Regions from separate parts of the Homo sapiens genome. Here all the other regions are linked to region 1. Evidence: fine-mapped expression QTL. A gene starts in region 1. Each other region holds a variant in brackets. All regions are shown on one strand. Distances are between the middles of the regions.

Region 1 (10,083 bases):
GAGCAGGGTGGGCATCCTGACTGGCAGGAGACCAGCTGTCACTGACAGGCCCTGGGTGCATGACCACACTATAATGGCTGGGTCATGCCTTCCGCTGGTTCAGTGATCAAAAACACAGCCAACATGGCTTAGCATGAGCGAGAAGCCTGGGTGGAGGACGGAATATTTGCAGAGAGGCAGGGGCAGGTCTGAAAGAGGGTCCTGGGGAGATTTCCAATTTCAGTTTTCCAATGACTCTTTTTGATTCAAAAACCAGCTCTATCCAGATTTTCAGGAAAGCAGTTTGATAACAGGAGATGACAGCCACATGTGCTTGTCAATATTTGAAGAGGGGTGGAGATCGTAAAGAGAGAAGATTAAGAGGCAAACCAAGTTGGGAGCATGATGGTGAGCACCACCTGAAGTCTGTGTAGCAAGGAGAAACTTTACTCTTAGTGAACTCCCTGCTTTGTCGACACCGGGAAGTAAATTCTTCCACCAAGAAGTTTGCACTTTTGAAGACTTGTTGCTACCTCCACCCAGGGCCCTGAGCTTGGTTTATTGCTCTACAGTTGCCATATTGAAAATCTTAACACAGCTGACCCTTGAACATCACGGGGATTAGGGGCATCAATCCTGTGCAGTTGAAAATACAAGTATAACTTCTGACTTTGCAGAAACTTAACTACTCATAAGCTACTGTTGACCAGAATCCTTACTAATAACATAAACATGTTTTCTATGTTTTATGTATTAACACGTTTTCTATGTTATATGTATTACATTTGTATATTGCATTCTTACAATAAAGTAAGCTAGAGAAAAGAAAATGGTATTAAGAACATTAAAAAGACAACGCATTCTAAGAAACATCATAAGGAAGAGAAAATATATTTACTATTCATTAAGTAGACATGGATCATCATAAAGGTTTTCTTCCTTGTCATCTTCACATTGCATAGGCTGAGGAAGAGGAGGAAGAAGAGGGGTTGGTCCTGTTGTCTCAGGGGTGGCAGAAGAAGGGAAAAAATCCATGTCTAAGTGGACTCATGCAGTTCAAACCCTTGTGGTTCAAGGGTCAGTTGTAGTGTTATCTTTGAACTTGGGTTGAGTAAGTAAAATCTGATGAGACAATGAAGCATAGTCATGAGATACAAGCAATATGCAAGTCTACTGTTCATTGCCACCTATTCACATATAACATCCATGATGCCCATGAGCAGAGAATGCCAGTGAGTTCATGACTATTCAGTAAGCCTCAAAGCAAGTAAAACACATGTGAGTTACAGCTGCAATTGAGTATGTGGAGGCACTGACACCCCAAGAGTCCAGGCTTTCCACGCAAATCAGAAATTATCTTCAATACAGAAAAAAGGCAGCACATTCTAAGAAACACAAACAACAAAAGAATCCTATCCTAGCCTTTCTTACCCAGGTTACCTCCCTGTAAGGGCCAACCACTTGTGCTGAAAATGATAACATAGCAAGACAGAAATATAGGGCAGCTTAGAGTTTCTTTTTCTTTTGATTTTTCCTTATTCATCAATAAACTGAAGATAGAGAGCATTAGTAGAATGGGTGAGTATCCAGAGGTAGAGTAAAAACAGTTGAATGATGACTTCTATGCAGCGTTTACACTGTTTTAGTGAGAACAGACTACGGGGGCCCCGTAACTAACTACAAAATACAAGTCGTATGATTTTGGTGATTCTGCCCTCGAGTTCATTGCATTTCAAACCAGCATGGCTTGATCTAAAGACGGATGGCAAAACTCACGCTGATCACTTACATTTTTATTTTTTCTTCCCTTAGAATGACTTCAAATAATAAGTAAAATACATGACAGGTAGAGAAAGAGACCAGGAAGGAGAGAAAACAGCTTTATGTTTCATACCTTTAACGGTACTTTTCCCTGCTTTTAGAACAAAGGGCTCATCGTTTTTGTTTTGCACTGGGTTCAGCAGATTATGTAGCCGGTCCTGCCTCATCACCACTCCTGACTACACCAGCTGATGCTTGGTGATGGTCTACAGTTTGCCAGACCCTTCATCACCACTCCTGACTACACCAGCTGATGCTTGGTGATGGTCTACAGTTTGCCAGACCCTTCATCACCACTCCTGACTACACCAGCTGATGCTTGGTGATGGTCTACAGTTTGCCAGACCCTTCATCACCACTCCTGACTACACCAGCTGATCCTTGGTAATGATCTACAGTTTGCCAGATCCTTCATCACCACTCCTGACTACACCAGCTGATGCTTGGTGATGGTCTACAGTTTGCCAGACCCTTCATCACCACTCCTGACTACACCAGCTGATCCTTGGTGATGATCTACAGTTTGCCAGATCCTTCATCACCACTCCTGACTACACCAGCTGATGCTTGATGATGGTCTACAGTTTGCCAGACCCTTCATCACCACTCCTGACTACACCAGCTGATCCTTGGTGATGATCTACAGTTTGCCAGATCCTTCATCACCACTCCTGACTACACCAGCTGATCTTTGGTGATGGTCTACAGTTTGCCAGACCCTTCATCACCACTCCTGACTACACCAGCTGATCCTTGGTGATGGTCTACAGTTTGCCAGATCCTTCATCAACACCCTTGACTACACCAGCTGATGCTTGGTGATGGTCTACGTTTTGCCAGACACACTGCTGAGTGCCCCCACCTGAATGATTTTTCTTAATCTCCTAAATCACTCATATCCCTAAACCTTATGTTTTTCTTCTGTAAAATGGGAGCAAAAGATCTTAATTTCACTGTGGACATAAATGAAATGGACGGATAAACACAAAAGGCTTTGCAAAGACTAATGCCATCCAAATGGCAGTTACTGCCATGTATAATTTAAAAGAGAGCAAGACAATGGGGAGTGTTAGCTCACGCCTATAATCCCAGCACTTTGGGAGACTGAGGCGGGTGGATCACTTGAGGTCAGGAGTTCCAGACCAGCCTGGCCAACATGGAGAAACCCCACCTCTACTAAAAATACAAAAATTAGCCAGGCATGGTGGTGCACACCTGTAGTCCCAGCTACTTAGGAGGCTGAGGCAACAGAATTGCTTGAACCTGGGAGGCAGAGGTTGCAGTGAGCCGAGATAACACCACTGCACTCCAGTCTGGATGACAAAGCAAGACTCCGTCTTAAAAAAAAAAAAAAAAAGAATGAACAAGTCCAATCAGCCAGGAGTTGCAGAGTACCTACTCTATCATAGAGGGATCCCCATCCTCGTTTTGCAGGGTGCCAGGAGTTGGGGATACAAGAATAGATGCAAAATAAACACAAAGGAGCACACAGCTGAGGGGGCTGACAGAGACTTAGGGAAGTACAGTAGCTTGCTCATAATTCCACAGCCGATCAGTAAGAATCAAGATCCGAGCCCTTGTCTGTCTCAACCCAGGGCCAGAGCTCAAGCTCCTGAGCCTCCAGGCTTGGGTCAGCACAGAGCGTGTGCATGGCAGCTGCTTAATAATTGGGTTTACTACATTCCAGATTGACATGTACAGTGCTGAGCTGGAATCGACTTTACAACCCTAATTACGGTGTGCCTGGTTGTGTATTCAGCATTTATTTAAATAGTATTTTTTTTCTTAAATGTTGATTTCTGAAAGAGGCCTTCCCCAGCTCTCTCTATTTCTCTCCCTTAGCTGCCTTGGCTTTTCTTTTATAATGAGAATCACACCCTGTAATTCTATGTTTATATTTACAGGATTCTATGTCCAATGACACTGAGTGCAAGAAGGGTAGAGACCCAGCATCTTTTACTCACCTCTTTAAACTCTGGCTTATATATATAGCCTGGTGCTTGACAAGTATTCATGATAGGGGTTAAGCTGAGTATACTGTTGAATAAAACCACAATAATTATTGGTCGCAATTCTCTTGAATGTCTTCTCCAGAGCACTAAGTAGTGTAACTTATCAAGTTTCCTTTCTTGCATTGGCTGTTAGGAAGCTCAAAGCCATATCTGCAAACCCTTCATAGCAAGTCTGTAAATCAACAAGAGCATTTATTTTTGATCCTGTTCTCATTTGATGTTCCAAATTTTGTTCTTCAATCTTCTTTTGTTACATGTTATTTCATGCTCTCATAATCTATTGTATATGTCCTTGTAAGACACTTTAAACAACATCCTTGCTTGAATTAAATAAATTGCATAGCCTGTCGAATTTCTGGCCTGCAAAGAAAAAGAATGCCCTTTCCAACATCATGGTATGTCTCCAGAGCAATAAACCACCCTCAGGTTACCTGATTTCTGGTGTCCAAACCCCTTTGGGAATAAGGTTTACATGACTAGGGGTAGTTGAGTGGATGAGAAGCTATTTCCTTCCAATTAGGTGGTTAGGTGGTGGTGGAGGTGGTGTTCTGAAGTCAGCAGACAGAACTACAAAATCTCACAGAACGTGTTTTCCCTGCTCTGACCATGACCTACGGTTACTGGGGAAGGAAACTGCTTCCCCAGGTCAACCCGGCAGCCTCAGTAGGTGAGGGGCACTGGGTAGAATACTTGGGGTGCCAGGGAGGCATTAATGCGAGAGGAGTCAGGTGCTCAGTTTTTATTGGAGTTGGGAGGGCAGCCCCACATCAGGAAGAGAACCTGTTTCTGCAGGATGGTCCGGGGAGAAGGGAGGACTCCACCCAGGCTTGTGTTTGCCCTGCTCTGTGTATTCAGCCAGCAGGCTCTGCACAAGGAAGCAAAGTGCAGGGAGCCAGGCTCCACCGACAGCCAGGCACTGGGCAGCACGCACTGGAGACCCAGGACCCTGTGCAGGAGCAGCTCCGGGTGACACGAGGGGACTGAAGATACTCCCACAGGGGCTCAGCAGGTAACTGCTTTCAGATCCTTTAGGCATGGCTGGAGGGTTTGCTGTTTGTGGTAGACGGTGTCATATAGAGGCCAGGGGTCAGACAGGGTCAAGTTTGATCCCAGCTCTGCCTTCTGTTCACTGTGTGGCCTTGGATATGTGTAAGCCTCAGTTCCACTATCTGTGAAATGGACCCAAAGATAGCACTCATCTCAAAGTTTTTAGTTTTACAAGGAGCAAATGACAATGTGGTCAGTGTTAGGCGCATAGCCACATAAATAACTCCTATTTGGTGGAACTATTGAGGGTCATTTCAAGCACAGGACATGGGGAGAAGTCACTGGATGGAGGGATAGGCTGTGTGATTTGGGGATCCGTCAGGGCAAGAATGCCCCATAGCCGAGTGGAATCTGAGCCTTCACCTCAGGCATTGCCTAAAGAAGTGGGAGGACAAGAAAAAGGACTTGTGGAGTGCCTTTTGTGAATCTTATTTAACGCTCAAGACCACCCTATGAGGCAGCTGCTGATTCAAATCCTGGCTTCAGGACCCCTGCTGTTTACATCTCCCTCTGAACCAGTTTCCTGCCTGGAAGAGTCATTGCGATTAGAATGCGGGTGCGCTGCAGCCACACCGCCAGATGCCAGCCCCAGCTCCACCCTGGGCTGGCTGGGTGCCCTGGAGCAGGTTCCCTCAGCCCTCTGGGCCTCAGTTTCCTCATCTGTAAAGTGAACCTAATAACAGTACTGAGATCAAAGGGCTGAGAGGACTCTACTGCCCGTAAATACCTGTGCACTTAGTAACTCTTAGCTGTGGTTCTTGTTTTCGCTGTTACCATCGTCTCCATTTTACAACTAGGAACATGAAGCTGGGTGAAGAGGGAGCTGCATCTGGTTCCAGGTCTCATGGAAAGGATGCTGTGGAACTGGAGTCCAGTCGGGCCTGGGATGAGGGTGCAGCCAGTGAGACTCTCACCTTGGGCACGAAATGTAAGGGATGCCAAAAAACTCAGTCATGGAGATAAACGGTATGTTAACACAACATTTTTAAAAGTCAGAATTAATGGCAAGACACCCGTGATGAACAAACTATGAACATGTTACAGAAAGATAAGATCAGGAACAGCGGTAATTTTGATTTTCACAAATTTCATGTTAAAATACTATTCATCTCCATGGCTGAGCTTTTTGGTGTCCCTTACATTGTTCCCCCGGAGTCCAGGGCCTGATCCGCCTCAGCCTCCTGGGGATCCTGAGCTGATCACAGCAGCTTCAGGCCCTGGGTGTATATACTCAGGGTATGTAGAGGGTGCTTCCTCCTAAATAAAGACAACAGACGGGGCGGGGCATGCTAAAGTAGTTTCTCATTTAAGTGAGGGTGGGGGAACAAACCAATGTCCCAAATCACAGAAGATTCTTTTTTTCCAAAGAGTTCTGGAACCCAGAAGGGTTTTGTTTTTAGGAAAAAGGCATGAGCTTTGGGAAAAGCAATGGGCCCGTTAAAGCCCATGGATTCTGCCTGCTTTACCATGACAAGAGATGTGGAGGGAGAGGAATTGAAAAAGGCTTTGGGTTGGGGGCGGGGGTACCTTTGCACCTTGCAGGCTCATCTGTCCTGCTGGAGTATTAGATGTGACTTGATTGTCTCTGTGTCTGCAGCTTCTCTTCAAGCCAAGTGCCCTGCCCTGAAGCAGTTCAGGATTTGAGTGCCTGAGTCACGTGGACCCAGGTTCAAACCCCAGGTGTGCCTCCCCGTAGCTTTCTGACTGCTACTCTTGGGCAAGTAGGACTAGTAAGGTGCCTACCCTCATGGAGGTGACGTTCGTGAGATGAGGGGATGGCATTGCTCAGCCTTGGTTTCTTTATCTGTGCAATCAGGGAATAATGGGACTCTGCAAGGGAAAAGGAGACAATGTGTGTGAAGTGCCTGGCACCAGGGTCAGGGCAAGGGTGAAGCCAGTGAGCACCTGGGGGATAAAATGCAGGGAGGCGCTCACTCTCTGCTGCCGATTCTGCACCAGAGATGGTTGCCTTCCTATATTTTGTGTCCTGCTATGCTCACCCTGGTGCTGCCTGGCACATAGTAAGCCTCCAATTAAAATTACCTGCGATTATCATGCACTTAACAATGTTTGGTGCAATAATAAGACTATGAGAGCGAGCTCTAAGATTTTTAGGATTACCATCCGTTTGTGCAAACATAATTAAGTACTCCGAAAGCAAAACATCAATCACCAAGCAGCCCTAAAACATCCAAGGTGATTTTGATCAAGGCACCCCTGCCCCTGGACCCACAAAGTCCCATACCAGGAATCAGGGCTTGGGCAGTTCAGTGAGGACTGGATTTCAGTTCCCTGTGTCCCCTTGTACAGGAGGCAACCTGTAGCACTGTACCTGGCACTCCTGATAATAGCTGCCGTGTTCCTAGCACTGTGCGGGCACACACATGGAGCTGCAGGACTGTGGGGCAGGCAAAGCGGGGTTGTTCTTTCCTCCTGCAAGGTCTTTACTGATGTTGGGGGCAGAGGGCTGGTTCTGCTGGGTGTGCCAGCCTGGCCATGTTGGCGTCACCCTCAGCTGAGCAGTGAGGAGGGCCCCTGGGTTACCTACATTCCATTGCATTGATCGAAGGTGTTGCTTGTTTACTTGGTGACTAATTCTGTCACCATTCCACCCTTCAAAACCACCCCCCCTCCCATTCAACAGTCGTCTAGCTGCCTGCTGGTGATGAAGTTTCAGAAGTGCTTTCTCCAGGCCAGCTTGCATGGGGTTTGGCGTTTGGCCTGTTTCCAGGAGGAGGGCCTATTATTAATCTGTAACTACAAGGAGGCGACATGGACCATCAATCACTGTGTAAAAGAGGAGGGATTTGAGGGCAGCTTCCAGGAGGCCAATTCACTCATGGATCAGAACACAGAACTAACTCAATTATAACAATAATAAGATAAATGAATAATATTAGCAATAACTAACGTTTACTCACCTGAGTACTGCCAAGCCCTGGCGCTAAATCCTTACAGTGATTATCAGTGACCCTTCAATTGTTCAATCCTCACTTTATTTGATTTATTTATTTACTTATTGAGAGAGTTTCATTCTGTCGCTCAGGCTGGAGTGCAGCGGTGTGATCTCGGCTCACTGCAACCTCCGCTTCCTGGGTTCAAGCGATTCTCCTGCCTCAGCCTCCCAAGTAGCTGGGATTACAGGCATTGTGCCTCCACATCTGGCTAATTTTTGTATTTTTAGTAGAGACAGGGTTGCGCCATGTTGGCCAGGATGGTCTCAAACACCTGACCTCAAGTGATCCACCCACCTCAGCCTCCCAAACTGCTGGGATTACAGGCATGAGCCACAGCGCCCGGCCTAATCCTCACTTTAGATTGTACCATATATATTCCTTGCCTAGTTATAATTTTCTCATTGCAAGAATGAATATGCAGGAAATATTTTCTATTCCATGTTCTATTATATTACATATAAATATTTCATAAAACTATAACATCACTTATACAGCAGAAGAGACAGTAGAAAGTATGAAAATAGAAAAGTTAAAAGTCTAAACTCTGGACTTGAGTTTGCGAGGGTTAAGTCCTCATTCTCCCACTTACTAGAAGATGATCTGTATTAGTCAGCTTGGGCTGTGGTAACCAAAACACCACAGACTAGGTGGCTTAAACAACAGTCATTTTTGTTTTCTCATAGTTCTGGAGGCTGGAAGTCCAAGATCAAGGTTCTGGCCGATGCATTTCTGGTGAGACCACTCTTTCTGGCTAGCCAACAGCTGCCTTCTTGCTGTGTCCTCACACGGTTGAGAGAGAGACAGAGAGAGCTCTTTGGTGTCTCTTTTTATAATGACACTAATTCTATCAGATCAAGGTCCACCCTTCTGATTTCATTTAGCCTTGATTCCTTAGAGGCCACATTTCCAAATGCAGTCATATTGCACGTTAGGGCTTCAACACGAATCCAACACGAATTTTGGAAGGACACATTTCAATCCATAGCATGATCTTAAGTGAGGAGTTTAAGTTCCCTGGGCTCAGGTTCTGCATCTGTAAAATGGGGACAATAAAAATACCTGCCTCGGCCGGGCCCGGTGGCTCACGCCTGTAATCCCAGCACTTTGGGAGGCCAAGGCGGGCGGATCACGAGGTCAGGAGATCGAGACCATCCTGGCTAACACGGGGAAACCCCGTCTCTACCAAAAATACAAAAAATTAGCCGGGCGTGGTGGCAGGCGCCTGTAGTCCCAGCTACTCGGGAGACTGAGGCAGGAGAATGGTGTGAACCCGGGAGACGGAGCTTGCAGTGAGCCGAAATGGCGCCACTGCACTCCAGCCTGGGCGACAGAGCCAGACTTCGCCTCAAAAAAAAAAAAAGAAAAAAAATACCTGCCTCATCGGGTTCTGATAAGGAAGCTGTGAGTTAACACAGAGAAGCATTCAGAGCAATGGCTGGCATAAGGTAGGCGCTACAAAAATATTAGGTATTACTACTGCTAATGTATGGTCCATTTTATTTACTGCTTATACTAACAGCTTATCTCTATTCCTCAGCTGCTGTGCACCAGCCACCCAGTTATACAACACATGGGCCACACCCTTCTAATCTTCACAGGAGCTCCACGCAAGGAATCTATTATGGTCCTTCCCTCCACCCCTCACTTCTCAGACACGGAGCCAGGGCTTATGCATATGGCCAGGGTGAGCCAGAGGGGAGCCCAGGCAGAGGGCTTGCGCTATTTCACCACCACAGACGAATTTACTCACGTGCTTTTCAGAAATGCAGATCCCTAGGTGACACCTGGCTACAAACACGAGGAGAACATCCCCAAGTCCAGGCACTAGAGCAGGGCCCCTCAATATCAGCACTAGCGACCCTCAGCAAAGCAGACAATTCTTCGCTGGGGGAAGGGGGCGGTCCTTGGCATTGCAGGGTATGTAGCAGCGTCCCCAGCCTCTACCCACCGGATACCAGTGCACGCCCCCCAAAGCTGAACCGTGACTATCAAAACTGCATGCAGGCATTTCCAAATGCCCCTTCGGGGCCAAAATCGCTCCTGACTCCAGAAACGCTGTGCTCCACTTATTGTGAGGGAGAAACAAAGAACAGCATATTTCCAAGGAGAAAACGTTTAGCAAAGCAATGTAAGTCATCGAGGAATAGGACAAGATATCCAAAATATGAAATATAGATATATAGTCCTGGAAAATTGGTACCAAAATAAAATACCCTAAACATTGTAAATATGTTATATATATAGTGTGTGTGAGATAGATAGATAAA
Region 2 (10,083 bases), 69 kb after region 1:
GGCCTTGGGGAAATGCTGCTTCATCTTCAAGTCTCCCTCTCCCTTCTAGTTCAGTCACTCTTGACCTTGGTGCACACTGGAATCACCTGGGGAGGTCTAAAAATATTGACATCTGAGCCTCGCCTCCAAAAAGACTAATGTAATTGGTCGGGGTGGAATCTGGGTATTGGCATTTGTTTAAAAAGCTGCCCAGGTGATTCTAAAATCCAGTTATGCTGAGACCCACTGGGCTGATGAAATTAACTTGTCTTTTTTTTCTTTTTATCTTGAGACAGGGTCTTGCTCTGTCACCCAGGCTGGAGTGCAATGGCACAATCATAGCTCACTGCAGCCTTGACCTCCCTGGCTCAAGCAATTCTCCTGCCTCAGCCTCCCAAGTAGCTAGGACCACAGGTGCATGCCACCATGCCTGGCTAATTTCTGTTTTGTTTTGTTTTGTTTTGTTTTGTTTTTGCTTTGTTTCATAGAGACAAGGTCTCACTATATTGCCCAGGCTGGTCTTGAACTCCTGTGTTCAAGCAATTCTCCTGCATTGACCTCCCAAATTGCTGGGATTACAGATGTGAGCCACTGTGCTTAGCCTCACTTGTCTTTTTATCAGAGTACTTGTCCCTATCTACTGACCTTTATCCACCATAAGGCTCCAAGCATCTAGGAGAGAAGACAGTGTCAGATTCATTTTTGTAAATCTCACAGCTTACCACAGTGCTCAGTAATTAAATTAAACACAATAATAATAGCTAACCATTACTGAATGCTTCCTCTGTACTGCACATTCTCCTAAGTCCTTTATATGGATTATCCCATTTACTCCCTCAACAACCCTAAAAGGCAGGTGCTACTCATCACCCCACTTTTACAAATGAGCAAATTGCAACCTAGAGTTAGGGAAAGTGCAGTACTGCAGAGGTGTAGATGGCAGAGCAGGGATTGGACCTGGGCAGCTGGCCTCTGCACAGCTTGTATGTAGTCACATTGAGGGTTAGGATTTGGGGAGACACAAACTTTAAGTCCACAATACACAGTGAAAGCATAACTTCAGAGCCCATGCTAATGCTGTGTGGCCTCTGCACAGCTTGTATGTAATGTAACTACCCCCACATAGTTACTGAGTGAGGATGAATTCATGAATGGTGCTCCTGGGCAACACCTTACTTAGGCCTGTGGGGAATTTCTCAGTCTAGATTTATGTCTTGTGCCACTTTCATAATGACTCATCTTCAAGACACCTGTTCAGTTATTCATGTAATAGCTTTATTTAAAGTTTACTTTATATTGAACTTCACCTACACAAAAATATCCATAATATGAAAAGGTTGATGCTGGACATATTTTTCTAGTGCACATTGTCTTAGTTCAGGCTGCTATCAAAGTACCATAGACTGGATGGCTTATAAACAACAGAAATTGATATCTCACAGTTTTGGAGGCTATAAGTCTGAAATCAAGATGCCAGCATGGTTGGGTTCTTGTGAGGACCCTCTTCTGGGTTGCAGATGGCCAGCTTCTCATTGCACCCTGGAATGATGGAAAGAGGACTAGAACGCTCGCTGGGGTCTCTTTTATAAGAGCACTAATCCTATTCATGGGGGCTCCACCCCATGACCTAGTCATCTCCCCAAGGCCCCACCTCCTAATACCATCACATCAGAAGTTAGGATTTGAACACATGAATTTTGGGGAGACACAAACTTTCAGTCCACAATACACATTAAAAGAATAACTGTGTGTGTGCGCGGACATACCACCTAAAATAAAATCGCCTTCCTCATACGTATATCAACACTCATCTGCTATAAATAGAATTTGCAGCCATCCTTCTAATCAACCAGCTTAACCGCTTGGATCCCAGTTATACCTCAGAGTTAGTTTTTAAAAGTTCAACTCATATTAGAACCTGTTTTTAAAAAGTACATCTCTTCCAAAGCAAAACACTTTTCTCCCAGAATTAACCAGAAAACCTAACAAGACTATTAAGACCATGGCTTTTATTTGCTTTTAGTTTTATGAAGCTTCAGCTGCTCATGAGGCATTTCACAAGAAATATGCTTCCATTTAGAAAGAGTCCTGGGGCTGATTGAAACCCTTGTAGAATATGTGTATTATTGTTACTTTTAAAATACTCACCAAAATGTGCTTTTTGTATTTTTGCAGCCATTTCACAAAAGCCCCATTTTTAATGCAAACTATTCCAACCTGGCCTTTGGTGTTAGGCTGGTCTAAGTGCATAATCTAAGTACCAACTGAGTGCTGAGAACTGTGGTATAGAAATTCAGAGAAGGGGACAGAGTCCATGGGTGGCCTGACCCAGAAAAACGTCGGTGGGAGAGGGAGACTTGATTCCAATCGTGAAGAATAGATTTCAAAAGGGAAGACAGAAGCTGGAGAGCACAGTGTACAAAGGCATAGAAAAAAGAATTTACTCCATATCCTTTCATCCTTTAACAAATGTTTCTCCTGAATCTACTCTGTGTCAGGAACTTTGCAAATTGTATGGCATTTTCATTGCTTTTTTTTTTTTTTTTTTTTGTCTGTTTGGCTAACATTTATTGGACACTTCTATACTAGGCATTATGCTAAGGAATTTACATGCATTATTTCTTATGGAAACTCACAACGAATTATACCAGGCAAGGTTTATTATTAATCTTGTGTTCCATGAGACGACCTTGTCTCAGAGAGGCTAAGACCCCAGCTGGGGTTCCTCAACCTGTGAGTGGAGCTGGGAGGTGAATATGGAGTCTTTGTCAGGCACTGGAACTTTTATCAACCACTTGATCTTGTTGTGAATGAGACACACGCAGTGCCTGTCCTCAAATGCCCAGTTGAGCAGGTGATACTGGCAATTAATCAATTATGATTCAGTATGATGGGTACTGATGAGAGGGGAATTAGGAAAACAAATAGCAGTAAGAGATAATGAGCTTCAATTCTTGTTTGCAAAATTACTCAATTGAATATCAGTCTATGGGAAAGAAAGAGAGATTGATCATTGACATTCATTCTTCCCTTCATTTATTCATTTATAAATAATGTTCATAATCATTATCACTAATTAATATAAAAAGATCTGCTACACCCCTAGAACAAGATTTATTATTAATTTTGGTGACAAAGTTCATATTTCAAATACACTTATTAATTTCAAATTTAGGGAGCTCACTTCTTTTCAGACCTGATTTGATCCTCATTGCTGTTCACATGATAATGTAGCTCAAGATTCATGCATCACCAAAAACGAACTCACCTGTAGCCAGCTACAGGAAGTCAACACTCTCTACTATTAACAGAGTAGAAGCTTTCAGCTAAGGGAGAGTTACAGGAACTGGCTTTGCCCTCTTGCCTAAAACAGATGAAAACTTGGACAAAAAAACCAAACAACAATTTTTAAGACTGTTTTAAGATATCAGGCAACAAGGATAGGTGTTCTCTGAGAGACGGGACATAAGAGATAATCCCTGTGTCTGCTCCTACCTACTGCCTTGAGAGGGTTTCCAGCCCATAGCCTAGGGGGGAGGAACTGAGGCAGAGCCCAGCAGGCTCCCTGAGCCCAAGGTGGCCAGAGTTCATAGACAAAGCATCAGAGGAGAGAGAGAGATACACAGAGAGCAAACTCCAAGGGTCTGTCAAAGGTCCTCACATAGTATGAGGCAGAGAGCTGACCAATATGTTCATATGAGGAAACTAGCAAAGACTGAAGGGGGAAAAAAAAAAAACCAACCACCAGAAAGGCATTTACACAGGGCCAGAGAGAGTGCCTTCTCTCACCAGCCAGACTAGAAAACCTCATTATTAATAAGGCACTGGGTAGAGTAGTCACAGGGTCTTTCCTCATTAGCGAGAAAATATTAGCTTCCTAGACTAGACACGATTTTGGTCCTACCTAATGTAACTGCCAATGGGTTATTTTTGCCCGCTGCCCAGACAGAGCCAATTTATCAAGACAGGGGAATGGCAATAGAGAAAGAGTTTACTACACATAGAGCCAATTAAATGTGAGATTAGAACTTTTTTATTACTCAAATCAGCTTCCCCCCAAAATTCAGAGGCTAGAGTTTTTTAAGGTCAGTTTGGTGGGCAGATTGCTAAGGCGTGGAGAATGCTGATTAGTTGATTGGGGGCAGAATCATAGGACATCAGAGATGTCCTCTTGTACTGAGTCAGTTCTTGGGTGGGGGCCGCAAGTCCAGATGAGCCAGACCAGAATGCAGGGTCTGAAAAATATCTCAAACACCAATATTAGGTTTTACAGCAGTAATGTTATCCATAAGAACAACTGGGGAGGTGAAGAATCTTGTGGCCTCTGGCTGTATGACTCCTGAGCCATAATTTCTAATGTTGTGTCTAATTTGCTAGTTTTACAAAGGTGGACTGGTCCCCAAGAATAAAGGGGGCTTGTTTGGGGAAGGGACTGTTATTATCTTTGTTTCAAAGTTAAACTATAACTAAATTCCTCCCGAAGTTAGTGTGGCCTACCCCCAGGAATGAACAAGGGCAGCTTGGAAGTTAAAGGCAAGATGGTGTTGGTTAGGTCAGATCTCTTTCACAGTCATAATTTTTTCACTCATAATTTTTGCAAAGTCAGTTTCACGAACAAATCTTAAAAGCCAGAACTAAAAGGATCAAACTGATTTTAAGTATCTTAACTACCTCCAAAAACAAAGTTCAAAAATATTTATAGGAACAAAAAATATCCAGCCACCCAAACAGGTAAGATTCACAATGTCTGACATGCAAACAAAAATTACCAGGGAAGCAAAGAAGCAGGAAAATGTAACTCATGATGTGAAGAGAAATCAACCAAAACCTACCCAGAACTGACACAGGTGTTAGAATTGGCAAAAAAATAAAAAGGATTAGCATAAATGTGTCTCATATGTTTGGAAAGTTAAGTAGAGACATAGAAGATATATTTTTAAAATCCAAATCAAATTTCTAGAGATAAAAACTACAGTGTGTGAGGTAAAAAATACACTGGATGACATTAACAACAGATTAGACAATGCAGAAAAAAAAATTGTGAATTTAAATACACAGCAATAGAAACTATCCAAAAGGAACCACAGGGCAGTGGGTGAAAAGGAAGAGGGCTTTTTCAAAAAGAAGGAAGAAAGGAACATTAATGAGCTACAGGATAACTTCAAGTAGGCTAGTAGGCAGGTAATTGGAGTCCATGAAAGGAGAGAAAAGGAGAGAAGAAAAAATATTTGAAATCATAATGGCTAAAAATTGATGACTGATACTCTCACTTGGATTAAATCATTTGTTCATTCATTCACTAGTAATTTTTGAGATTGTACCATGTGCACAAGTCTGGGTGCTGGGGAAACATAAGGGAGAAAAAGAACCTTCATTGGTTTCTATTCCAGTGAAGGGAGAGGAACAAAACACAAAATGACAAGTGAGAGTTTTAATATAATTCTCAGTCTTGCCACTGAGAGCCAGATAACTCTTTGTCCTGGGCATTGCAGGAATTTTAGCAGCATGCCTGGCATCTATCCTCCAGATACCAGTGGTAAATCACTAACCCGCTACTCGTGACAATCAAAAAAATGTCTCCAGACATTACCAGATGTCCTTAGGGGGAAGAGGAGCCAGTAATATATTAGAAGTGAAATCTACTAGGAGAAAAATAAAGCAATTAGCAGCATCAGATATGCCGGGATATATTATAGCAACTTAAAGTAGAGTGGTAAAGAAAGACCTCGATGAAAACGTGGCCATTGGCTCAGGCGCAGTGGCTCATGC[C/T]TGTAATCCTAGCACTTTGGGAGGCCGAGGTGAGGGGATTACCTGAGGTCAGGAGTTCAAGACCAGCCTGGCCAACACGGTGAAACCCCATCTCTACTGAAAATACAAAAATTAGACAGGCATGGTGGCACACACTGTAATCCCAGCTACTTGGGAGGCTGAGGCAGGAAAATGGCTTGAGCCAGGGAGACAGAGGTTGCAGTGAGTCAAGATCATGCCACTGCACTCCAGCCTGGGTGACAGAGTGAGACTCTGTCTCAAAAAAAAAGAAAAAAGTGACAATTGAAAAAGACTTGAAAGAAGTAAGGTCACATGCTCCTGGCAGGCAGAAGCTCAGCCCAGATGCAAAGGTCCTGAGGCAACAGCCTACTTGACATGTTCAAAGAAGAGCAAGCAGGTCACTGGGGTTACAAAAGAGTGACCCAGGGGGAAAATAAAACAAAAAAAAACGGGCAGGAAAGCAATGAGAATGGAATGGAAGAGGGGCACTTCTCCAGGAATGAGCAGGAGGGTCCTGTTGTCACAAGGAGTGAGGAATGCTACTTAGGCAAAAACAAATTAATGCTTACGCTTGCCAACTGTGGCCTTGGACATGATGTTTAAACCTCTTTGGGCCTCAGTTTTCTCATCTGTAATTTGCCTTGCACAATCTTGGCAAAGATTAGATAAGATAGATTTGTGAAGGCACCTCGTAACTGTAAAGCTATACAAGCATAAACAAGCATTGTTTAAGACGTAAGGATGACATGGTTTAAACAAGTTATAAGTGCAGTACTTTTTGGGAGAGTTAAGTTATGAAGGGTTTTTACTGGTGGAATTTATGGATGTAGTCTATATTTATATACACTCCCTATGAGGATCTTGGTTTTCCACCACCTGGATTTAATTTATATGATGTTACATTTTACTGCACACACTATATAAGTTTAGCAAAGTTGACACTCATAGCCAAATAATCTATAGAATTTTAAGATGTTCAGTTCTGACAGGCCTGACTTATAATCCCCATATTGGCCTCTCTCAAGCTGTGTGACCTTAGACAAGTAACCTAAACTCTCTGAGCCTCATTTCATTGTTTGAAACTGTTAATTGTAATATTTGTCTCAGAAGATTGTTGTAAAGATTAAGTGACATATGTTTAATGCATTTATTTGTATAGTGGTTTGCATGCTGTAAATGTAAAATATTTGACGTATTGGCATTGTATATTATTCTATAATAAATAATAATATATTAAGATTAAGCGACCTTGTTCAAATTATACTAGCTTAGGAAAGAGAAAGCACTGGTGTACATGTAATGCTTAATAAGTAGTTGACGTAATTTGCACATCTGTCCTTACCTAAATCTCATGTTGAATTGTAATCCCCTATGCTGGAGGTTTGGCCTGGTGAAAGATCACAGGGGTGGATCCATCATGAATGGCTTGGGCCATCTCCTTGGTGGTAACTGAGCTCTTGCTCTATGTTCACACATGATATGGTCATTTGCAAGTTTGTCCCACCACCCCCTCCACTCTTTCTCTCTTGCTCCTGCTCTGACCATGTGCTGTGCCTGCTCCCACTTCTCCTTCCGCCATGATTGTAAGCTTCCTGAGGCCTCCCAGAAGCCAAGCAGATGCCAGTCCCATGCTTCCTGTAAAGGCTGCAGAACTGTGAGCCAATGAAACCTCTTTTCTTTATAAATTACCCAGAATCAGGTATGTCTTTATAACAACGCAAAAAATGGCCCAATACAATCGTCCATTAAAATGAGTTGAATTGTATCTCAGTGGTTGGGATAGTCAACCCATATCAATTTATACTGCTTGTCCAGACACTGCCAACCCCAGAGGAGAAAGTATAAAATCCAGGAGTCTAAATGCAGTGCCACCATATCCCACTCTCCACTACTGAGAGAAGGGGTCAAAATAGAAATACCAAGTCTTCTGTGGGCTTCTGCCACCTCACACACTGCGAATTGTTAGAAATCGCTTTTGAGGAAACAGAAGTGTCTCCTTTCATTCTCCTCTAAGTAAGGGAACTGGCAGCATGGGGGCAGGGAGATGGTGTGGAGAAGGCGGAACCCACAGCCCTGGGATGAAAGGAAGGACTACACGGGGATGAAAGGGAGGGCGAAGAGTGAAGACGATGCTCAACCAGCAGGTGAGAGTCGAGTCCGCCTCCCTCACTCCACCCACCTCCAGACCAAGCTCCCCACTGCCAGGCCACAACCACATGCACCAACCTGCCCAGCCCGGATACGTTTTAGGTCTCACTTGTCACAACCTCCGGTGCACCAAACAGCTTCTCAGATGCACCGATGTACCTGCAGGACCTCTCTGTTGAAACCTTCTCATTTTTTGCAAGAATATTCATCAAGTTTATATAATTTGCATACCTCTTGACCCAAAAATTTCATTTTTGATAATTTACCCAAAGAAAATATAGATACATGAGTATTTAAAAATAAAAGTGTGAGATGATCACTTTACTACTGCTTATAATACTCTAGATGTACAACTATACACACTGTGAATGTCCATCAATAAGGATATTAGACAATAAACAATGTTATAACCAAGCAATGGAATAAATGTCACCTGAGTCGTAAAGAATGAGGCAGGTTTAGCTGTGTTGCAATGGGAAGTTTCTGTACTACTTTGTCACATGAGAATTTATGCTGGTACAGATAGCACTATTCTATGTTTGTAAAATTTTCATAAATGATACATATTTATTGAATGCCTTCTGTGGGCCTCGCTGTCCTTGGTACTTGAGAAAAGCACTGAGTGAAGTAGATATTATCCCTGTCTTTGTCGAGTTTGTAGTCTAATGGGAGTATGAGGAAAAGCACAAAGACTGAGAAGTAAACAGAACTGCTGACACAGCAAAGATTTTTAAAAGGGCAAGGGACTCTGGTGGAGACGACAGTGGTGGGAGGACAGCCTTAGATGAATGTTTAGGGACAATCTCTCCAAAGAGATGACACTTATGACCTTAAGGATGGATGGAAATTACCTACGGGCAGACAGAGGAGCAGAATGTTTCAAACAGAGAGCCAGAAGTTTGGAAATAACCTGTGGTATGTTTGAAAAACTCAAAGAAAGTGGGCCAGAAAATGGAATGAAGGAGCACGTGGTACAGAGAGGATGGAGATTTAGGCAGGGGCAGACCATGTTAGACGTTGGAGATCCTGCATCAGAGTTTGGGCTTGACTCCAAGAGCTGTCAGAAGCTACTGGAGGGTGGTAAGGAGTGGGAAGATGGGATCTGTTGAGTAAAGAATGTATTGTGAGGGTCAAGAGCCCAACCAGAGACAAGGCCAGGGCTGTTGCAGTCAGAAGGTGGAGAGGCAGTAGCTTCCTGTCCTGGGGTCGTGAGAGGTGAGATGGTGAAAGGAAGGCAGATTCAGAACGCATCCTACCCTCCTGAGGAGGTCGGGGAGAAAATCAGTTCCCCTATCACACCCCTTGCACAGATGAACCTCATATCTCAAAAGCAAAATAGTTATTTTTAAACACCAGTACTTTTTCTTTTTCTTTTTCTTTTTTTTTTTTTTTTTTTTTAGTTGATATAATCCAACTCTGTGGAAATTGTGGGAAACGCCATCTCTGGGGATAATGTACACATCATAGATAAGGAGACTATAAAGATGGAAAATATCGATACCTTACACAACTTCTTTGCAGAATTGGAAGAAAAGGGTTTTTGTTTGAAATGCAACGTGCACTGCTGTGTTTGTTACCCTTTGGCTCCAAACAATGTCCCTCCAACCAACAGCAAATGCTGAATATGTTAGAAAGAGGGGGAGGGAAGGAAGAGTGACTCTTATAATCTCATGATTGTTCTGCACGCCTGTGGGCAGAAGAAGTATGGCTGGAATTAGGGGGTAAGAGAGAAAGGGGTGTGAAGCAAAAGTATGACTTTGAGAGTTCACATTCAGCAAGTGGCAACTGTGACAACTGTTTTGCCCCTAGGACATAGTTGACGGCAAGGAAAAAGAAGGACAAGAACTTGGAACTGCGGATTGCTCTGTCCCTGGGGACCCAGAAGGACTGGAGACTGCAAAGGACGATTCCCAGGCAGCAGCTATAGCAGAGAATAATAATTCCATCATGAGTTTCTTTAAAACTCTGGTAAGCAGTTTTCTCCTCTTTTCCCCTCCACTCTATTGCTCAAAAGTTTTGTTAATTCTAAGAATAATGCACATTTGAATGTTATTGTACTAAATGAATTATCATGGTGCTGTTGGAGCATGGGAGAGAACAGGGACAAGATATGCTTCATAAGAAAGTTGTGTTATATCAGACTTTTAGCAAGAGAGCCCCTGAAGCTCGGAACCATGGTATAAGCAG
Region 3 (10,083 bases), 23 kb after region 1:
ATAAGAAGGAACTACTGATCAATGCAACAGCATGGATGAATCTCAACATTATTATACTACGAAAAAGAAGCCAGACACAAAAGGCAACATACTACATGATTCCACTTATATAAAATTCTAGAAAGGGCACAAATGTAGTGACAGAAAGTAGATCAGTGGTTGCTAGGGGCTGGGGCTGGTTGAGACACTCACTGCAGAGGGGCATCGAGAAACTTTGCAATGATGGAGAAGCTTTATACCTTCATCATGGTGGAGGCTACATGACTGCATATTTTGTCAAAATGCACTGAATTGTGCTATTAAAGTTGGTGGATTTTATTGTATGTGAATTATACTTCAATCAGATAAATCTGATTTTTGTAAATGCTGTTAAGGTACAATGAAGTTTTTTAAAAATCAGCATAGTTGGCTGGGTGCAGTGGCTCACGCGTGTAATCCCAGCACTTTTGGAGGCCGAGACAGGTGGATCACCTGAGGTTGGGAGTTTGAGACCAGCCTGGCCAACGTGGTGAAACCCCGTCTCTACTAAAAATACAAAAATTAGCTGGGCGTGGTGACACACGTCTGTAATCCCAGCTACTCTGGAGGTTGAGGAAGGAGAATCTCTTGAACCCAGGGAGGCAGAGGTTGCAGTGAGCCAAGATCGTGCCACGGCACTCCAGCCTAGGAGACAGACAGAGACCTCATCTCAACAACAACAACAACAACAACAACAACAAACAAAAAAAAAACCAGCATAGTCAAAAGCAGCTCACATCAACTAAAGAAAAAAAATAAATTCAATAAAGAATGGGGGGAAAGATCATTTGCTATGTTAGAAGGGTGTCTTCTGCTCAACCAGTTCTTTTGCTTCCTCTGGATTCATCACTGGGGGCAGGAGGAGTCTGCACAAAAGAAAGTAATGTGATGGGGAGGTGTTTTGTGAAGAGATGACATCTCTTAGCTATTTTGTCAGCCCATTCCTCCCATATACTGCCCAAGAGAGGGAGACCTCAGGAGACTGTCATCTGGTACCTCTTCACCTCCCCCCAATACATGTGGTATGTTAATTTATTGCATCTCATTGAATCAGACAACTTCAAGTAGGACCACACTTCACAGTTGAGCACATCACCCTCCTGTTGCGTACAGAGATCCCCTGTTTTGTTCACATGCAAACTTTGGTGGATTGTGAAGGAGAAACTCAATCTCCCATGGCTCAGAGATCAGGCAGTTAGAAAGGACAGAACATTTAGTCCCACACACCACTGTCAGGCCACACAAAATTAATCATCCTAGAAAGAGAATATGCTGTTCCATTTAGTGAAACATTACCACGGAGGTGCCACAACCCCTATTAATATGCAACAATCACTTTCCCACCAATAAGAAAGGAGAATGACGGCTGCTCCTTACCTTTTTCACTCAAAAGCTAAAAAGAGAAGAGAAAGCCTAAGCCTAGAGATTCTGGGAAGGAAATACCTAAAAAGGCTTTTTACCACCTTGAGAATATAGTTGTTTTCTAGTTTGTTTCTTTGCAAAAGACCCACCTAAAGAGATAGATGGCCAGTATTAGCATAAAACCAAGCTCTGTGAGAGTGCAGCTAATGCTGATGTGATTTAGTTAACATTTGTTCTTCAATAACAAAAACATAGTTTTAAAAGGCACATATGTTCTCAAGGGGGACCCCAGAGTCATCTTCTCACTCAAGCAGAGCTGAGGTGTTGGGGAGGGACGCAAGGGGAGGCAGAGCGTGGACGGCCAGGGCAAAGAAGGCAGGTGGGCAAGTGAGATGACACGTTGGCCTCGCAGGTGACATCCAGGACTAGACGAGGTAATGCATTAAGAGCTAAGCGCATCCCATTCATGAAATTGTAATATCACTGACGTGTATCTGTGTATGTACTGTATCTGTGCTCTATACGTAAAAAGAATGAGTTTTGTTCATCCTCTCCCATAGAACCATTTTCGCCCTCTTGGGATTAATACCATCCCCACTGAGAGTGCATACACTAGGGAGTGCAACTTACTTATGCAATTTCTTCATGTATGAGACCACAGAGTATTATAGCTAAGAGTCCAGCACAAGGCACGGTGCCCTTCCTCCCATCAAATGCTCACATCTAATCTTCAGCACCTATGAGTATGTGACCTTACATGGCAAAAGGACTTGGCAGATGTGACTAAGGAATGTGAGATGATGATATTATCCTGGATTATCCAGGTGGACCCAGTGTGATCACAAGGGTCTTCATGAGAGGGAGGCAGAAGGGTTGGAGTAGGAAAAGGTGTGATTATGGGAGCAGATGTCACAAAGAGAGAGAGGCTTAAAGATGCTACACTGCTGGACTGGAAGCTGGAGAATGGAGCCACAAGCCAAGGAATGTAGGTGACCTCTGGATACCAGAGAAAAGAAGGAAATAGATTCTCCCCTACAGCTTCTAGAAGCTGACCCATTTTTGACCTACAGGCTTCAGAACTGTAATATATTTGTGCTGGGGCATTTGGGATAATTCATTACAGCAATCGGAAATGGAACCATATCCTCTCAAGCATTGGACTCTAACAGACCCAAGCATAGGTTTTGGCTCTGCCACTCACTAGCTGTACAACCTTGGCAAGGAAGTTTATTCTGAGTCTCATCTGTAAAACTGGAATAATAGTATGAACTTTGTAGGGGAGCTCTAAAAACAGCAGCTGGCACAAGATAAAAGTGCTGAAATAAAGGAGTCCGGGCAAAACTAAAAGTAGAGGCTATTGGGATGGGTGCAGTGGCTCACGCCTAAAATCCCAGCACTCTGGGAGGCTGAGGTGGGAGGATTGCTTGAGTCCAGGAGTTTGAGTTCAGCCTGGGCAACATAGAGACCCCATCTCTATTTAAAAAAAAAAAAAAAGTAGAGGCTATTTTCATACTTATTCTTTACCATTGGCTTTCCCTGACATATCACCTGACCAGATTTTCCCACCTGCATATTATTTATGCCTAAAACTTCATAGATCTTTGGAGAAATAAAAATGCCTGATTTTTGGCCTTCTTTGATTCCTTTCTAGCAAATTTATGACATTAGTTCTCAGGCCTCACTGCTAACGTATGGCAGAGACTAAGACATGCCTTCCCTGCCAGGACACGTCATTTTCCAGAAACAGAAGGAATGTTTGACCTGGATAAAAGGTTTCTAAAATTAGTATTTTCCTTTTTTGCTCCTAGTCATTGTTCCTAAAAAGAATAGACTAATTTTGCTTTTCTTAAAAAAAAGATGTAAGTGGAATCATTTTATTGGATTGAAAATTCTAACTTGAGAAAAGTGCTCCTGCCAATAACATAATGAGTGAGAAGAGAAGCATTTGCCAATATCAATGCCTAGTCAAAGTGGAATGGGAGACCTGATGCCAAAAAGCATAGCTCCCTGATGTAGTAAAAAATATAGGCAACAGCACTTGTCTGGAAGGGAGCAAATACATGTGTTCTCCTAGTGTCCACTATTTCCCTCCAATTGATCTTATTTTTTATCTGTTTCCAAACTCAAGTAAAAGTCCCTGAGAGCAGGACGCTTGCCATCCTTTCTTGTTATGAGGGTCCCAGAGCTCAGCACAAGGCCTGAGATACACTAAAGACTTAGAAATGGTTGATCAATGAACAGTGGCATATTAAGCCAGTGGTAGCAGAGGAATAAAATAATAAGGCCGAAGGGCAAGTTCCCAGACTCTGCTGCACTCAGCTTCAAGGAATGCAACCCTGGATAAGTAAATAGCACTTTTAATTTGAGCAAGAAGTCTGGAGGTGGCAGTTCTAAATTTGGTACAGCAGTCTGACAGCCTCATCAAAACACCAAGTACATGAGCCAATTGTGTCACTCCTGCTCACAAGATGGCTGTCACAGAACCAAACATCACATCTCTACATCATGGGATCCAAAAGCAGGAGAGGAAAGGCCAAACTTTGCCACCATTTTTTTTTCTCCTTGTATTATGCGAGGAAGGAGGATCCTTCCCTGAAGCCTCTGCCACCATGTAGGCATCCTCTTATTGGCCAGAGCTACATCACATGGCCCATACCAGCTGCATGGGATACTGGGAATCAAGCATCTCTTTGAGATGCAAGTGAATAATAATAATACATGGTTGGGGCTGGAGA[C/T]GATTGGCTATTGGGCAGGCCACAAACAGTGTCTGCCAGAGGTGATTCCAAAGAATTATTAGAATTGAGCAAAGGAAAGTAGTTCATATCCTCACTCTGGCCTTTCAAAAGACATTAAGGAGATCTAACTCACATCCTAAACACCACTTTTCTCTCTCCTCACATTGCTATATGTCTCTCACTCAAGAGGCTCCCTATCCTCAACTCTCCACCTTGAAACTCTGTGAGACACCCCATCCTCATGAGGTAGGGGAATAGGGTCTGGAGGCGGGGAAGCTAAGGACTTCCTAGAACTAAATCAAGCAGAAAACCCACAACTTTCTATGCTCAACTATGGATGTAACTGCACTTCAGCTATGGCAGGAAATATCCTCTTCATTTGCATAGGGTGTACACCAAGTAAATAACTTTGTAACTTCCCTTCATCCTCTTCATTTACATAGGGCATACACCAAGTAACCAATGGGAAACCACTAGAGGGTATTTAAACCCCAGAAATTTCTGTAACCAGCACTCTTGAGCCACTTGCTCAAACCTGCTCCCACTCTGTGGAGTGTACTTTCATTTCTATAAATCTGTGCTTTCATTGCTTTGTGCATTTTGTCCAATTTTTTTGTTCAAAACACCAAGAACCTGGACAACTCTCCACTGGTAACACTCACAGGCACTCTCCTTTCTTCTTTCCCTCCATTGCACTGTATCACCACTGAGTCTAAAGTAATAACAGAGAGTTCTGAACACTGGCTCTCCCAGATGGCCCAACAGCTCCTTGTGCCTCTGTCTTCCTTGGGAGTGAGCAAGAGCCCTGGGGAAATCTCATCCTTCTCAAACTCAGTGCTTTTTCTCACCAAAAAGTCTAGTGGAGAATTCCTGTTAGATAAAATTATCTTCCCTATTGCATTATTGTGGTTGATAGTCTCCAAAGATGCACACATACAACCCACCACGCAATAACCCATGCTTCCTGGTATTCACACCCCTGTGTAGTCCCCTCTGGGCTGGTCCTATATAACCAACAGTATGTAGTAGAAGGGATGACACAGGACTTTCAAGAAGCCTTTTAAGAAGACTCGGAGCTTCTGCCTTGTCTCTTGCAACACTAGCTCTGAGAAAGGCTAGACACAATATCAGAAGTTCTACCCTGAGATTGCCATGCTGTGAGAGAGCCCAAGCTAGTCACATGAAGAAGCCATGAGGCAAGAGAGAGGTACCCAGCCAGTTCCCAAATATTCCAGCCATCCCAGTCCAGGAACCAGACCTGTGATTAAAGAAGACATCATGGGCATTTCAGCTAATAGATGCCGTATGAGGAAGGACCATAGGAACCAGCCCATAGCCAGAACTAAAGCTCCAGACATATGTCCCTGTGTGAGCCGTCCCAGCCATCTTCATCCTTTCAAGGCACCCCAGCTGTGGCTCCAGACATCATAGAGCAGAAATAAGCTGATCCTATCCTCTCTCTGCCTGAATTCTTTTTTTTTTTTTTTGAGACAGAGTCTCACTCTGTCACCCAGGCTGGAGTGCAGTGGCACGATCTTGGCTTGCTGCAACCTCCACGTCCCAGATCAAGTGATTCTCCTGCCTCAGCCTCTTGTATAGCTGGGATTACAGGCACGTGCCACCATGTCTGGCTAATTTTTGTATTTTTAGTACAGACTGGTTTTCACCATGTTGGCCAGGCTGGTCTGGAACTCCTTGACTTCAGGTGATCTGCCCATCTCAGCCTCCCAAAGTGCTAGAATTACAGGTATGAGCCACTGCACCTGGCATCTGCCTGAATTCTTTTTTTTTTTTTTTTTTTTGAGATGGAGTCTCGCGCTGTCCACCAGGCTGGAGTGCAGTGGCATGATCTTGGCTCACTGCAACCTCTGCCTTCCAGCTTCAAGTGATTCTCCTGCCTCAGCCTCCCAAGTAGCTGGGATTACAGGTGCCCGCCACCACACCCAGCTAATCTTCTGTATTTTTAGTACAGACGGGGTTCCACTATGTTGGGCAGGCTGGTCTCAAACTCCTGACCTCGTGATCCACCCACCTTGGCCTCCCAAAGTGCTGGGATTACAGGCATGAGCCACCGCACCCGGCCCTGAATTCTTAATGCATGGAATCATGACCTAATAAAATGGTGGTTAAGTCAATCATTTTGGGGATGCTTGTTACACAGCCATAGATAACTGAAATAACTATTAGTATGCATTTTAATTCTTTGTATTTTATTTTTACATGCATATATACTTACATACATACCAATTAACATATATGAATAAATGCAATCATATTTTCTGTTATTGTTGTTTTGGTGAAACCTGTCTTTTTCTTTTTCTTATTGGCTTCTTCCTCATCTCACATCTTCCCTACCCCCTCCAAGGACACCCAAGCTAACAACCTAATATTTCTTCTTTCATATTTTTCTCTTTGTTCTATACTTTGTAAAAGACAAATCTGAGACACAATAAAATTTCAAAGAGTGTATCTGAATAGAGGCAATTCATTAATTTGAGAAAAGAAAACCAAAAGGGAATTAGTGTTTTGATGACAAAGCATTACATGCCAGAATTAAGGGAAAATGCAGAGGCATAATATAAAATGTGTTTGATGTGTTACAATTACACAGTTGCCTTATTTGATCATCTCATTGGAAGGTACCCAGTTATATAATTTTAAGTTTGTTGACTGTTTCTGATTGGTTGAGCTCAAGTTCTGTTTTTCTTTAGCATAGGCATTTACAAGAAACAGTTCGAGTTGTTTTGCTTATGTCTGCAAATCAAGCAAGGTTTAGCTCATTTATGTGGTCTAACAGGCTTTGTCCGCTCAGGGATTCTTCAGGTCTGGTCTTTATTTTAATTTACTTTAACTAGCCCCATACAGACATTTCCCAGCACATCCATTAATAGTGTTTGTTTTTTTTTAATTGTAATAATCTTCCCCATCTCAACTCCAAATTCAACTGGTATAACTTTAATTCATTTTTTTTAAAGCTACAATGTACTTCAAGGTATAGACATACTATAATTCATTCAGCCATTATGCTAATTTTGGGCATTCAGTTTTTTTCTTATTTTTCTCTGACAATTTTTACCTGGGCGTAAGTTTTTTGTTTTGTTTTGTTTTTTTTTTTTTTTTGAGATGAGGTCTTGCTCTGTCACCCAGCTGGAGTGCAATGGCATGATCATCACTCACTGCAGCCTTGACCTCCAGGGCTCAAGGAATCCTCTTGCCTCAGCCTCCTGTGTAGCTGGGATCACAGGCACACACCACCACACCTGGCTAATTTTTTAGTTTTTTTGTAAAGATGAGGTCTCCCTTTGTTATCCAGGCTGGTCTCAAACTCCTGGGCTCAAGTGACTGTCCCTCCTTGGCCTCCCACATTGCTGGGATTAGAGGCACGAGTCACAGCACTCCTCTGGCATAAGTATTTTTAAACTCGTAATGTTTATCCAATATTAAAAGTTATTTGGAATACACTTAGAAAATTTCTTTTTTTCTTTTTTTTTTTGAGACAGAGTCTCCTTCCGCTGCCCAAGCTGGAGTGCAGTGGTATGATCTCAGCTCACTGCAACCTCCGCCTCCTGGGTTCAAGCGATTGTCATGCCTCAGCCTCCCTAGTAGCTGAGATTACAGGCGCGTGCCACCGCATCTGGCTAATTTTTGTATTTTTAGTAGAGATGGGGTTGCACTGTGTTGGCCAGGCTGGTCTCAAACTCCTGACCTCAGGTGATCTGCCCACCTTGGCCTCCCAAAGTGCTGGGATTATAGGCATGAGCCACCGCGCCCGGCCGGAAAATTTCTTCTTCACATTTTTCAAAAATAAAACATTGGCATTTCTGTTTTAAATTTTTAAGGACTTTTTTGTACTTACCATGACAGATACTCTGGACACAACTTACTGTTCCATGACTCATACAGTCTGATTTTAACTGTCATGCAACTGCTGTTGAGTAATATGCAACTTTCTCTTTGCCTCTTTGGATGGAGAAGAAAACAAGGCAGCACAGTTGGGCTCCAAAGATAAAAACATGGGCAGGGTTTCAAGATCACTCATCTCTGTCTTGGAGGATAGACCAAGAGAGATAGGACAGACCAAGAGACAACATGAAAAAAACATGAAAAGAGAAACAGCATTGAGAAATAACAACAGCTGCACTCAATTCTTTTCCTCAAGGTGCATTTTAACCAGATCTTGAAATAGAATAAACACACCTACAATTCTAATCCTAGAGTGGACATTTTTTTAAAATCAGCTTTTCATATCCTTTTACCACACCAAAAAGAACTTACCAACAATTTTCATTTAACAAAAATAAAAATAATCAGCGAGATCAAAGAAATGGTAAGGTGCGCTTCAAGTTTCTGGAAGTTTATCAATAAAAGCAGCATACTGTATTAGTGGGTAGGATCCATTATATGCAAAGCATACCCCAAAGAGCAAATGTTTCTGGGAACAAGAACTGAAAAATGTAAGCAGAGCCTGCCTCCTTGTGTGGGTGCAATAGCAGTGCCCAATAGCAGTGACTCGCAGAGTTGTCCCTGGGCCAGCAGCATCACATCACCTGGGTACCGGTTAGATGTGCAGTTTCTGTAGCCGGAGCCCAGACCTCCTGAGTCAGAAACACCCCCTTCCCTGGGGGTGGGGCCCAGCTATCTGTTCCCACAACCCCTCCCGGGTATTCTTGCACTAGCTCAAGTCTGAGGACCATGTAAGAACTGGCTCAAGGCTCTGAATGAAATGGAGTTTGCAGGGAACTGGAAAGCGTCCTTGTTTATAGGGCTCCACACAGCTTCAAGGATGGCTGCCCTGGGAAACCCTGAGCCAATAATAAGATATTTCAATAACAGCCTGATTTTAGGACTTTTAAATGAAATTTCCCAATTCAAAAAAATATAAACACTGTGTTGGCCAAACCATCAGCAGACCTCATAGTTGGCAACCTCCGATAGTGTGAGGTTTATTTTTTTCCCTACCTCAAATCCCTCTAAAAAGATGGCTATAAAAAAAATCATCGTCATCATCATCATCATCATCATCATCATCATCAAGTTATCATAGCTTCAAGCAATGAAACATTGAAATCCTGTAACCAATTTCAGCTGTGCTTGCAGATTTGTGGGCTCTCCAGGCATCCTGCCCGTCACAATGTGCATCCCATCTGTGTTTTCCACAGAGAGGGACAGTGGTGGGATGTTACCAGTGGCTGGCCCCCTTTGCAGCTTTCTGTCACGTAGTCTTAAGCCAGTAAGTTGGCTATGTGGTTAATTCATGAGTCCTCTTAAAAATGCCTTCTGAGAGTTACATCAGCTCCAGGTGATATAAAAAGAAAAGCTGGATTTTCTGAATTTGCCAAGCAGAGGCTCAGACTCTGCAACATGGAGATGTCCCTAAGGCCATGACACTCTCAGCAAGCAGGGCCCACCTGGCCTATCAGCCCCTCCATTCAAAGCTGATGCTCATTGGTTAGAACCTGCCTCGCTGCTGGGCCAGCCCTAGGCAAATTGGGAAATAGGTCAAGTGTTCAGTCCACTTTGAATCCCACCTCTCATTTCTAGTTCCCTACTTTCATTTTTTCTTTTCATTATTTCTTCATTTCTTAATGGATGGGGTAGGTGCATACACATAGCAAACATTCTGAGCGATATACATAATAAGATAAGGCAGAGAAAAAATCCCCACCCTAACTCTGATGGCTCCCCAAGCCCCATCCCAAATTTCCTTCCTTAGAAGTAAATACTTTACAGTTTCTTATATCCAGAGGTATCCCAGGCATGTCTATTTATAAGTTGTCTCCTCAACCTCCCGACACCATTTTTTAAAAACAAATGGAAACATACTGTACGTGCTGTTGGGCACAGCTTTTTCTTTCCTTACTAAAATTCCTTGGGGAATTTTAATGCCTGTGGAATATTTCATTGTAGGGACATATGATTATTTATTTTTTTAAACTTTTATCTAGGTTCAGATTACATGTGCAGGTTT

Alleles and levels. Alleles are on the strand shown, and positions count from the first base shown. SD is a standard deviation of normalised expression in the study named. Not every link is listed here.
For the expression in visceral fat of the gene that starts at base 4,660 in region 1, allele C in region 2 goes with a higher level than allele T (small effect, 0.35 SD a copy in GTEx).

Evidence for each region. PIP is the estimated chance that this variant, and not a neighbour inherited with it, causes the effect.
Region 2: its variant is fine-mapped to the expression of BCAS1 in visceral fat (GTEx, PIP above 0.99).
Region 3: its variant is fine-mapped to the expression of BCAS1 in whole blood (TOPMed, PIP above 0.99). The same link has a PIP of 0.9 or more in blood mononuclear cells.

Annotation. Positions count from the first base shown.
Region 1 is chr20:54,065,171-54,075,253 of GRCh38, reverse strand. It overlaps BCAS1 (brain enriched myelin associated protein 1), which reads left to right and starts at 4,660. Exons shown (of 13, transcript NM_001366298.2): 1 at 4,660-4,821. MIR4756 (microRNA 4756) reads left to right here and starts at 6,769; the gene lies at 6,769-6,846. RefSeq lists an enhancer at 5,067-5,941.
Region 2 is chr20:53,995,673-54,005,755 of GRCh38, reverse strand. It overlaps BCAS1 (brain enriched myelin associated protein 1), which reads left to right. Exons shown (of 13, transcript NM_001366298.2): 5 at 9,706-9,864. Among named protein-coding and RNA genes, the nearest start is that of MIR4756, 68 kb to the left of the region's middle. The variant C/T (reference allele first, on the strand shown) is at 5,749.
Region 3 is chr20:54,042,363-54,052,445 of GRCh38, reverse strand. All of the region lies in intron 3 of BCAS1 (brain enriched myelin associated protein 1), which reads left to right. Among named protein-coding and RNA genes, the nearest start is that of MIR4756, 21 kb to the left of the region's middle. The variant C/T (reference allele first, on the strand shown) is at 4,116.